4 separate regions of the Homo sapiens genome follow, and all the other regions are linked to region 2. The links come from fine-mapping of genetic effects on gene expression. A gene starts in region 2. Each other region holds a variant in brackets. All regions are shown on one strand. Distances are from middle to middle.

Region 1 (2,642 bases), 74 kb before region 2:
ACAGGGACACAGGGCTGGGCAGATCCAGGCTGCCAGGCCTCACAACCGCAGGGAACTGGTCAGGCATCTCAGACGGGCTTGTTGGTCCTGAACTAAAGCTGGACACGGACTGGGTTTCCGAGTCATCTTCAGACACAAAGTTGCTACAGCTGTCATCTTCAAAGGCCTCCGAGGCCACTAAGTTGAGAGAGAACACCAGTCACATGGGTTCTGTCACCTCCTCAAACACCACAAGTGCTTGCTGCTGGCAGGCAGCTAGACACAGCATGGGGGACTAAAGAGTCTCTACCTCTGTGAGTGCCTAATGAAGGAATGTGACTTCCCAAGCCTGAATGACCAGCCTCTAAAGCAGCTGGAAGGGAAGCAGCTGGCAGCAGGATCCCATGGATATTAAGCGCCCTTCCAATAACCTTATAACCCTGCCAAGAAATCAGTGTCACCAGACACCACCTAAAAATGGAAGATTAATTCAGCCACAAATTAGGACCTTTACTCCACCTCAGTCCCCCAAATACATCCTCATGTGCACAGGAAGAGGTTCTAGTCCTCTGTAACATATCCCAAACAAAGCCAGCTGGACTCAGGCTTCTTTCTTAGGGCAATAGAAGCAAGAGCTGCTAGAAGAAACAGGCCAGCATGGAACATCTGTTGGGACCTTTGTTATCTCCAGGTAACTTCTGATCTCATAAAGAACACACTCAAAGGCTACCCACATCACCATTTGCTGCAAAAGAACAGAAATCCTTTACAATGCTCTGTAGCCACATTATTTGGTAGACCAAAGTAACAAGGCCCAGACACATGTTATTCCCATGGTTTCAAAGCCTCTTTGGCCTTTAGCGGTTTTCCCTCAGCCTGCCCACAATCCCACTCCTTATTAGAACTTTCCTACTCCATTTTTCCCCCCCTTTCTCTTTAAAAACAGCCTTGTAGCATTCCATAAAGGTTTCTTATAAATGATAAATACTGTAATGTTGGGGACAGAAAATGGGC[T/C]CAGACCTGAATTGAATCCCTAACTCCACTACTTGCTGTGTGACCTTGGTCAAGTTACTTTACCTCTGTAAGCTTCATGATCCTCTCCATGCAGGGTTTGAGATGATGTATATATTAAAGTACCTCATACATAGTAGTTGTTCAAATGATAGTTTCCTTTTCCTTTACCTTGAACCTAGTACTTAAATATTTGTTGAAGGAATTAACTCCTGAGGAAGGAGCTTGGGAAAGAGCCGACAGGGATTATTGCACAGGTAAGGAAAAGAAAGGAAGTATGCAAAGACAGCGTTGGGTGGGTTTTCTTGATGAGCATGACAGAAACCAAGTCAAACTTCTATCAGTTTTCCAGGGGGAGGCCCTGGGAAAAGAGGTCTCTATGGTCAGATGTCAGTAAGAGCCACCATTTGCTGAGTGCTTCTTGGGTGTCAGGGGTTGATTCATGTAAGCTGAACCACCACCCTACACAACGGATAGTATACAGTAGATAGCGTCATACTCCCCATTTTACAGGTGAAGAAACTGAAATACAAAGTTAGGCCCTTGCCCACATCATGCCTTAGTAATGATGTAAAGGTAGCTTTGAATCAAATCTGATTACAGCTCTTCTTTCCTGCAGGACTTCTCAGCCTTGAATGTTCAAATGTATACTTTGACTCTCAAAGAGGAGTGAAGGTGTAACATTTTCCCAATTTATTTGACCACAGAATCCTGACTTTGAGGAACACTTAGTACCTTCTTAATGAACACAGTGTTCCATAAAACATGGGAACCCACCAGAAATAGCCCTCAGGCCTGCCCAACTCTGAGACCTTTCACTGATGGCCAGAGAAAGTGAGGACCTTGGGAAACAAATCACACAGTCTGATATCTCCCCACATACCCAGTGGAGCCCCTGACTTACCAGAAATGGCATCAGGCTCAGGTTTGCTCCCTGGCAGATCCTCCACAGATGTGCTGCTGCCCTCAGCACCAACACCGCATCCCCGAGGCCCCATGGCACTGGAGCGCCGCCGCTCGTGGATCTCATCTGAGATCATCTCCAGGTTCTTCAGGGCCATCTTGTACTCGCCTTTTGCCAGGGTCAGTTTGGCCTGCAGGTCATCCACAGTCTTTTTCAGTTGCTGATCAAGAGAACAGGAGACTAAGTGAAGACTACCCTGCTAGCCTTAAGATGCTTTCTGAATGACAGGTTCAAGTACATTTTCTGCCCATCATTCTACTTCAAGGAATTTTCCAAGACATGACTGAAGACCTAATTACCATTGTAACTGCTATTCATTCACCAGACAAAATCAGCCACCACCATCCCCAGATCCCATCCAGGTGACAACCTCTAATATCCAAAAACTCTCACTGGTGGAACAAACCCCATCAGGGAAGCAAAAATGGGCATCAGACACACCAAAGTCCCACAGTCTAGACATCTGGTTCCCAGTACAGTGGTTCTCAAAGTTGAGCTTGCATCAAAATCCCCTTGGGTGTTAAGACTCAGCTCACTAGACTCCAACCTCAGAGTTTCTAATTCAGTCGGTCTAGAGTGGGACCTGGTCTATCAGGTCTCCAGGTGATGCTGATGCTGCTGGTCCTAAGAGCATGCTGTGAGAACCACTGGCCTAGTACAACAGAGAAGGTGACTGAATGGCAGTTAC
Region 2 (2,642 bases):
TTTAATCCCATTCCTTTCAATAAACATTTACAAACTGACATTTTGTAAAAAAAGTATCCAACATGAACTTAACTCATCATTACTATGCAAACAAAGGATCTTGCTAACATAATCCCATACCAGTAACACACGATTTATTCCAAACCAATTACTTTAATTAATAGCATTCCTAATGCAAGGATTTTTTTTCCACCTGATCTTTATCTTGCTAAGCTGACAAAACAATTCATTTAAACCCCAACCACTGAGTTAAGTGAGCTTTTAAATTGATCTGTGCACTAAAAAACCAATTAGGTATCCAGAAATTACAGAGCATGCTTAAAAGCAATTTTTTTAAAAAAATGATTTATTGAAAAGGTAGAAAAAAAACGGGCCTTAGAAAGGGATTTGCTCTGCTTTTTGCTTAGGGGTGAAGAGGTGAAACTGTCACTCCTAGATCTCGGCTTGGAAATTGTTTTTTAATCATCTCTCTTGGAAATGGAGGCACAGCCAGCCAGCCCAATCCCCTCGCCGCCTCCACGCGTCAGCTTTGCGCATCAGTTGTCCCCGATTTCTTTTCATGCCCAACCTCACAACAAGGAAAAGCAGGGTTTTAAGCAATTTCAAGCCAGGCAGAACGTTGAGCCAGTGATGACAATAAGCCGCTCAGTTCGCTAACAATCAATCAGAGAAGGAAAACGGCTCAGGCCGGGCACCTTGGCAAGTGAGGACTCTGCACCCGGGGCACCGGTGCCAGCCCGCGCTGCAGGGCAACGCCCACCCGCCCACGGTGCCCGGCGCCCACGCGGGCGACACCTCCTCGCAGAGCCTGGACGCCGTGCCATGCCCGCGGTGCCGCGGCCGGGCAGGGGTACCCCCGAGGATACCATGGCGCCCCCGCCCCCTTTTTCCCTTTGTTGCACATCCACCCGAACCACCAGGCACGCTGCACCGACCCCGATCCTGCTACGGGTCGGCGGGGGACTCCCCGCAATAGAGTCAGGCCGCATCCACGCGGGCACTGTAGCCTCCTCATTGTGGAGACGATGAAACGGAGCATACAGACCGTCTCCTGCCACCCTATGTGGCCGCCAGTCCCCGGACCACAGTTACTGGGGGCTGCGAAGTGGCTGTACGCGTAGACACCGACCTCCGTAGCAGCCCTCGCGAAGCCCGGATGCGGGGCGACCCCGCGCGCCCTACCTGGATCCGGGGATCCACCTCTTCTTCCTCCTCCAGCCCCTGCTCCATCCCCTCTTCCTCCTCCTCCTCCTCGTCCCGGGCAGGCGGCAGGATTTCGGCTGGCTCCTCCGAGCGGCTCCGCTTCAGTGCCGCGTCCATGCAGGCAGCCGGCACGCGCGCCGCGCAGTGGGCTCCGGAGCGCCCCGGGGGTCGCGGCTGCCACAGGCTGGGCTGGAGCCGCCTCGCCACAGCCGGGCACGGTCGGGGAGCCGCCGGGGCCGACACCCGGGAGACGCAGCTCGCCGATGCGGATACCTCCGGCCGCGGCGGAGCAGAGGAAATGGGCGCGGCCGCCCCCTTTCTGCCGCGGCAGTCAGCGCAGCGCCCGCTCCGCCCCCGTCCCGCCCCGGCCTCGCGTTCCGCCGCCAGTCCCAGCTATCCAGGTCTCCGTCGCAAAACCCCAGCTCCCTCCACATCTCCAAGGTGGCAAAATAGGACAGCCCCCACCCCCTTGTAACTTAGCAGCTCGGATATATCTCAACTACGTAACGCAAGCCTCCCGCTTTCGGGAGTCCCCTCCTCCAGCCCTCCTCCGAGGCTCGTTGTTTGTGTGGTAGGGAGGCGTGGGTGTTTTCACACTGAAGTCGCCTTCTGAAGCCTACGCTCAGTGACCCTGGCCCTCAGGACCAAGACTTGCCGAAACCCTATACCCAAAGCACACTCATCCTCTTGAGCGAACCTTGGGAATGGCGGAGGTTCCGTGCACTGATGCATTGCCGAAGGCTGCGGCCTCTCTGGGCGAGCCCCATACCGAAACACAGAGGTGCGGCGGTCCTACCTGAATAGCCAGGAGCATGGAGAATGCATTGAGCTGGGATTTAAGGAGGTGGCAAGTGTAACCCCTGTTGATGGGCACACTCTGGCCAAGAATTTATGAATTAGTGAGACTTTCTGCCCACCATCAACAAGTAGGGAGACAGAGTTGGCCTGGCAGACACAGCATCCGAAAAGGCCAAACTGAAGAGGCACGTGTGTGTGCTTTTATGAAATGTCAGGGCCACTGTGATGTCAGGGGAACGCAAAGGATGACCTTGGCAAAGCAGATGAGCACATGGCTGCTCACGTCTCCTTGCCTTGAGAAATGCAGAACGTGCACATGTCCTACACGGAGGCCTGTAGCCCATCGGCTCTGAGTTTGGAGGACAAATTTGCTTGAGAAAGGAGCTTCTTTCTGAGAACCTATCATCAAAGCCACCTTACAAAACCTGGGTCTGGCACAACGTGGTGGCTCGTATCTGTAATCCCAGCTCTTTGAGATGCCAGGACACAAGGATCACTTGAGGCCAGGAGTTCAACACCAGCCTGGACAATACAGCCAGACCCCTTCTCAAATGAATAAATAGTCCTGCTCCTGGTGGTTTTATCAGAAACTAGGCTAGAGGGTTACTCCTTGGGCAAGGCACCACCCCATACACGCTGGC
Region 3 (2,500 bases), 110 kb before region 2:
TTGCTTAATGCTTGTCTGCTACTCTAGCATATAAACTTCATAAGGACAGAGACCATGTCTGTTTTAATTAAGTTGCACCCCAGTGCCTACCACAGTATCTGGTGTATAGTAGGTATTCAATAAATATTTCTTGAAGTAGTTAAATTGGGAGAAAAACAAGAATAAATACTAAAGTTACTATTCTAAGTGGCACGGTATTTTCTTATTTTTTAAATTATTTTACTTTAGGAACAATCAGAAGAAAAAGCAACAGTAAATGTTTTTAAGTTGGGTTAACAGATCATCAGGAAAAGGCTCCAGAATTTATCTTTCGCTAGAGAGATTGAATTATTTTTTAAAATTGTTTCTATTCGGTCGTGTATTACTTTTAAAATAATAAAATAAGCATTATTGAATAAATATTATAATTGTAAGTTTTTTTATTTTTTATTTTTTGAGATGGAGTCTCACTCTGTCACTCAGGCTAGAGTGCAGTGGTGCGATCTCAGCTCACTGCAACCTCCGTCTCCCAGATTCAAGAGATTCTTCTGCCTCAGCCTCCCAAGGAACTGGGATTACAGGCGCCCACCACACGCCCGACTAATTTTGTATTTTGGGTAGAGACTGGGTTTCACCATGTTGTCTAGGCTGGTCTCAAACTCCTGACCTCAAGTGATCCGCCCGCCTCAGCCTCCCAAAGTGCTGGGATTACAGGCATGAGCCACCGCGCCTGGCTGTAAAATATTTTTAATATATTTAAGTTCTGAGGGAAAAAACCTTGAATTTAATAATCCTCTAGTGACTTGAGAGAACAAATATTATGGAATCTTGGATTTATGCTGAAATATGGTTCATATGACAGGTTAATAATAGATTACGAATTTGAATTTGCATTAATTTTTTCTCCTCAAAATTTTTGAGAGCTGTCTTTAAACTCTTCTGAATTCAATTAGCTCACTTTCTGTTTACAGTTAGCTCCTGGTATTATACAGGTACCAAAATGCTACCTGGAATACTAGTGGTTCTGTGAGATGATAATAAAAAATGTTTGAGATATGTTATATGCCATATTCTATTTTAAGAGATTGCAATAAACATTGGCTTATTTAAAGTCTAGAGGTGTCCTTCAATGAAAAAACTAATACTTTAACCAGGAGTTTGTAGATCATACTTGACCACAAAATCCTCTCTTCTCCCAGTATCTGTCAGCATTCTTTGAAAAAAAAAAAAGTTATGTTTGTGCCAGTTTGCATATTATATACTTTCT[A/G]TTACTAGGAAATCTTTTGAAAACCAAGGATTTGTTGCTTCTGCTCTAGAAAGGGTTTGGGGATGGTTGGGCCTGGTGGCTTGTGTCTGTAATACCAGCACTCTGGTATTTACTTCAGGAAGGCTGGTATCAGCCTTGGCTGGAGGATCGTTTAAGCACAGAGGTTCTAGAGCAGCCTGGGCAACATATGGAGACCTCAACTGTTAAAAAAAAAAAAAAAAAAGTTTAGGGAAAGGGGGAAAGGTAGATGTTTCCCCTTGGTGTACACATCAATTTTAGAGAAACATTGTTACACACAGTGAGTAGAGGGTAATGGATAAGAATGGTGGATTTGGCACCAGAGACCTGGATTCAGATGCCAGTTCTGCTGTTTCTTAGGTGTCTGACCTTGGTAAGTCATTAATCACTTTAAGCTATTTCCAAAAATAATTCCTTTAATAGAGTTGTTTTAAGAATTAAGTGGATTATGTATGTAAAGCACTTTAGCATGATGCCTGGCACATGGTTAGTATTCACTAAATTAGCTACACTCATTATTAGCCTTGCCAAGTGGAGTTTGTAAAAAACCAGCTTTGAATCTTTAGCTTCCTAGGTCCTTTTGAATGAATCAGCTTGTACTATTGTTAATGGTTTCATTTTATTGCTGAATTTCTTGAATACAGTTATGCTAAATTTAAAAAATTATATTCTTAAATATAAATGAATTTAAGTTGTTCTTCTGTTTTCAATTATTTAGGTATATTTTTTAATTGGAGGGGATGATCAGGTTGACTGGACTCTATAAAGAGCCAGATTTGACCAGAAGGTTATTTTAAGATAATACAGTACTGCTATAATCACTAGACCAAAAAAAAAATCTCTAGGAAATTTAATTTTGGCTTTGAGTCATCTTTTAAGATTAATTTTTTTATTTTAATTTTTATTATTACCTCAGTGATAGATGGGGCAAGCTACCATTATCACCTAAACAAAAAACTACATTTTCCAAGTGGGTACGACCAGAAGACCTCACCAACAATCCTACAATGATATATACTGTGTCCAGTTTTAGCATAAAGCAGGTGAGCATTTATTTTGTATGATTTTATAGAAAAGTCAGCATTTTAAAGTAATTTGTGTATAGATTTGAGTTTTTTCTTAGATTTTTTATTATATATTCAGGTACAGAAGTGTAATTGGAAAAATTGTTCATTCTACACATTTTGACTGAAACATACTGAGATAATATAAGTATAAATCACTGTTTTGAGTGAT
Region 4 (2,642 bases), 28 kb before region 2:
AACACACCACAGGGACAGCACTGGGTCATTTGCTAGTGAACTACAATTTGGACCAACTGCTTAGATCTTCTTGGGAAATCTGAACTCTCATCTCAAGAGGCATCACAGGGTTGGTGATTCACATTAGCTCTCTAATCGGGAAGCCGAAGCAGGCTGAGGAAGGTGAATAAAGCCCCCAGCCCAGAGCCTGCCACACAGCAGGTACTAGTAACTGTTGAGGGCTCTTTACCTTCCCCATTCACAGGGCCTGGCTATCAGAGGCTGCAGGTGACACAAGTGGCACATCGCGTCACACAGCAGCCAAAGGAAGACCAACTCCTAAACCAGAACCCATTTCCACGCAGCCCCCAGCAATCGCCTGATCACAGTCCCCTCCGCCACTCCCCTTCTGGTCTCCGTTTCACTGCTTCTTATTTGGGCTCTCAGGACAAAGAACCAAAGTTTCAGCAGGACGATGGCCACGGAAGTCAGAATCCGCTAAGGAGTGTATAACAACTCACCTGCCAAATCTTAAAAAGGAAAAAAAAAAAAAGAAAAAGAAGAAGAACCGATGTTTCAAGAGAAGCAGAAGGCTAAACACTCCCAAGAGTGAGGCGAACGCGAGGCAGTAAGCGAATCTTCCTACTGCTGTCTGACAGGTTGTCATTAGGAGCGGAGGAGGAACACCCTCTGGACACGTCCCCTTAAGTGCACTCAGCACCAACTCAGGGAGAGCACCCACTTGCAGGGTCATCCAAATGCCAGCACTCACACCCTATTAATAGTGTCGAGCACTGGAATGAAGCAGATTGCGGGGCGGTGGGTCACTGCATTTAAGACATATTGGACTCGAGCTTCTAACCTTCAGCAGGTGATACAGTCAAAGGCACCCTTAAAACTGAGGGGTAGTGAGGCTCGAGGTAGGGGAGACATCTATGGGGCTATCTTACCTGCCTCGCCACCCTCCGTGCCTCCCAGTAGGGCTTGGAGTCTTCCACAGCTTTGCCAATTTTCTTCACCAGTTCATCCAGTTTCACCGTTGCTTCAACCAGAACAGAGCGGAACTTCTGACGAGCATCCTGCAGCCAGGGGAAACCGAGGAAACACAGTTGAGGCTTAAGAAGGGATCTGCAAACACCTACTGGACCTAGACAGAAACATCAACAAAGGACTTTACCCAACGTACAGACCCCTAAAGTAGCACCTTTACAAGACAGTGTCTAGAGCAGCACCGCCCAAAACAGCTTCCTGCCACGGCGGAAAC[G/A]TCCTGTGCTCTGCACAGTGCAGTGTGGCGGCCACCAGCCACGTGTGGCTACTGAGCACTTAAAACTGGCCGGTGTGACTGAGGAAAGGAGTTTTTAGTTTATTTAATTTTAATCATCTCGGGTGTGGTAGCTCACGCCTGTAATCCCAGCACTTTGGGAGGCCGAGGCAGGCCCATCACTTGAGGTCAGGAGTTGGAGACCAGCCTGGCCAACATGGCAAAACCCCATCTCTACTAAAAATACAAAAATTAGCCAGGCGTGGTAGCAGGTACCTGCTGTCCCAGCCACTCAGGAGGCTGGGGCACAAGAATCTCTTGAACCCAGGAGACAGAGCTTGTGGTGAGCCAAGATCATGCCACTGCACTCCAGCCTGGGTGACAGAGCACGACTCTGTCTCAAAAAAAAAAAAAAAAAAAGCTTAGTAAGCAACAACAACGCAAAGTTTCTGAGCACCTACTGTGTATGTGCACAACATGCTGTGCACTGTGGGGGAGATATCGGTAGGATGGACCCTTTGGAAATTAAGCCCGTCTCTACTAAAAATACAAAAATTAGCCGGGCATAGTGGGGGACACCTGTAATCCCAGCTACTCAGGAGGCTGAGGCAGGACAATCATTTGAATCAGGAGGCAGAGGTTGCAGTGAGCCGAGATCGTGCCACTGCACTGCAGCCTGGGTGACAGAGTGAGACACTGTCTCAAAAAAAAAAAAAATTAATTCATTATATTTAAAATTTTTTAATTAACATGGCTAGCAACTACTATATTGCATAGCACGGTATAGATTAAAAAGCTTTGTCCAGGACCTCTGGACAGCATGTTGTCAAAGCTCAGGACTTTAATCAGAGACATAGATTCAACACTGACCAAACCTCTATCTGGGGAAGAATGTCCAGCCATCTCTGACAGCTTCAGTCCAAATGATGCTGTCAATGTTAAACACTGAGTGCAAATTTATTTATTTATTTACCACATGCCAGACCTGGTGCTGGGCCTTGGGCGTGGCCCTGTCTCCAGGGCACTTACAGCCTGGTGGGTGAGGTAGGTATTACAGCCCGTTCCAGAAAAGTCAGTGCCAGGGTGGGAATGGTCCAGTCGCCATGGAACTCAGCAGGGAAGAATGGCGCCAGACCATGTATTAGAGGGAGAGTCACAGGAAACTTCCAGAGGAGTACTATCTAAACAGAAGTCCAAAGCATGAATAGGAAATTGGGGGAGGGGAGGAAAATACTGAGTCCCAAGCAGGCAGCAGAGCCTGTGTCCAGATAAGAGGGGAATGGGAACAGCATGGTGTCTGCAAGAAACTGAAGGAGGCCGGAGGTCTGGAATGTGGAGAATGGCAAGAGATAAGGGTGGCCATCCATCCTGGCGACAGCAACTAGCAACTTGGACCTTGATA

What was found.
Region 1: its variant is fine-mapped to the expression of SH3BP5 in whole blood (TOPMed, PIP 0.95). The same link has a PIP of 0.9 or more in blood mononuclear cells.
Region 3: its variant is fine-mapped to the expression of SH3BP5 in fibroblasts (GENCORD, PIP 0.95).
Region 4: its variant is fine-mapped to the expression of SH3BP5 in whole blood (TOPMed, PIP 0.99). The same link has a PIP of 0.9 or more in blood mononuclear cells.

What each region holds. Positions count from the first base shown.
Region 1 is chr3:15,256,937-15,259,578 of GRCh38, forward strand. It overlaps SH3BP5 (SH3 domain binding protein 5), which reads right to left. Exons shown (of 9, transcript NM_004844.5): 7 at 1,895-2,114; 8 at 1-177. It overlaps SH3BP5-AS1 (SH3BP5 antisense RNA 1), which reads left to right. Exons shown (of 3, transcript NR_046084.1): 1 at 1-670; 2 at 1,698-2,642. Among named protein-coding and RNA genes, the nearest start is that of SH3BP5-AS1, 4.1 kb to the left of the region's middle. The variant T/C (reference allele first, on the strand shown) is at 994.
Region 2 is chr3:15,331,089-15,333,730 of GRCh38, forward strand. SH3BP5 (SH3 domain binding protein 5) reads right to left here and starts at 1,498. Exons shown (of 9, transcript NM_004844.5): 1 at 1,183-1,498. The coding sequence starts at 1,320. RefSeq lists silencers at 1,067-1,126, 1,207-1,606.
Region 3 is chr3:15,225,659-15,228,158 of GRCh38, forward strand. It overlaps CAPN7 (calpain 7), which reads left to right. Exons shown (of 21, transcript NM_014296.3): 7 at 2,181-2,307. Among named protein-coding and RNA genes, the nearest start is that of CAPN7, 21 kb to the left of the region's middle. The variant A/G (reference allele first, on the strand shown) is at 1,247.
Region 4 is chr3:15,303,174-15,305,815 of GRCh38, forward strand. SH3BP5 (SH3 domain binding protein 5) reads right to left here. Exons shown (of 9, transcript NM_004844.5): 3 at 930-1,058. Among named protein-coding and RNA genes, the nearest start is that of SH3BP5, 28 kb to the right of the region's middle. The variant G/A (reference allele first, on the strand shown) is at 1,244.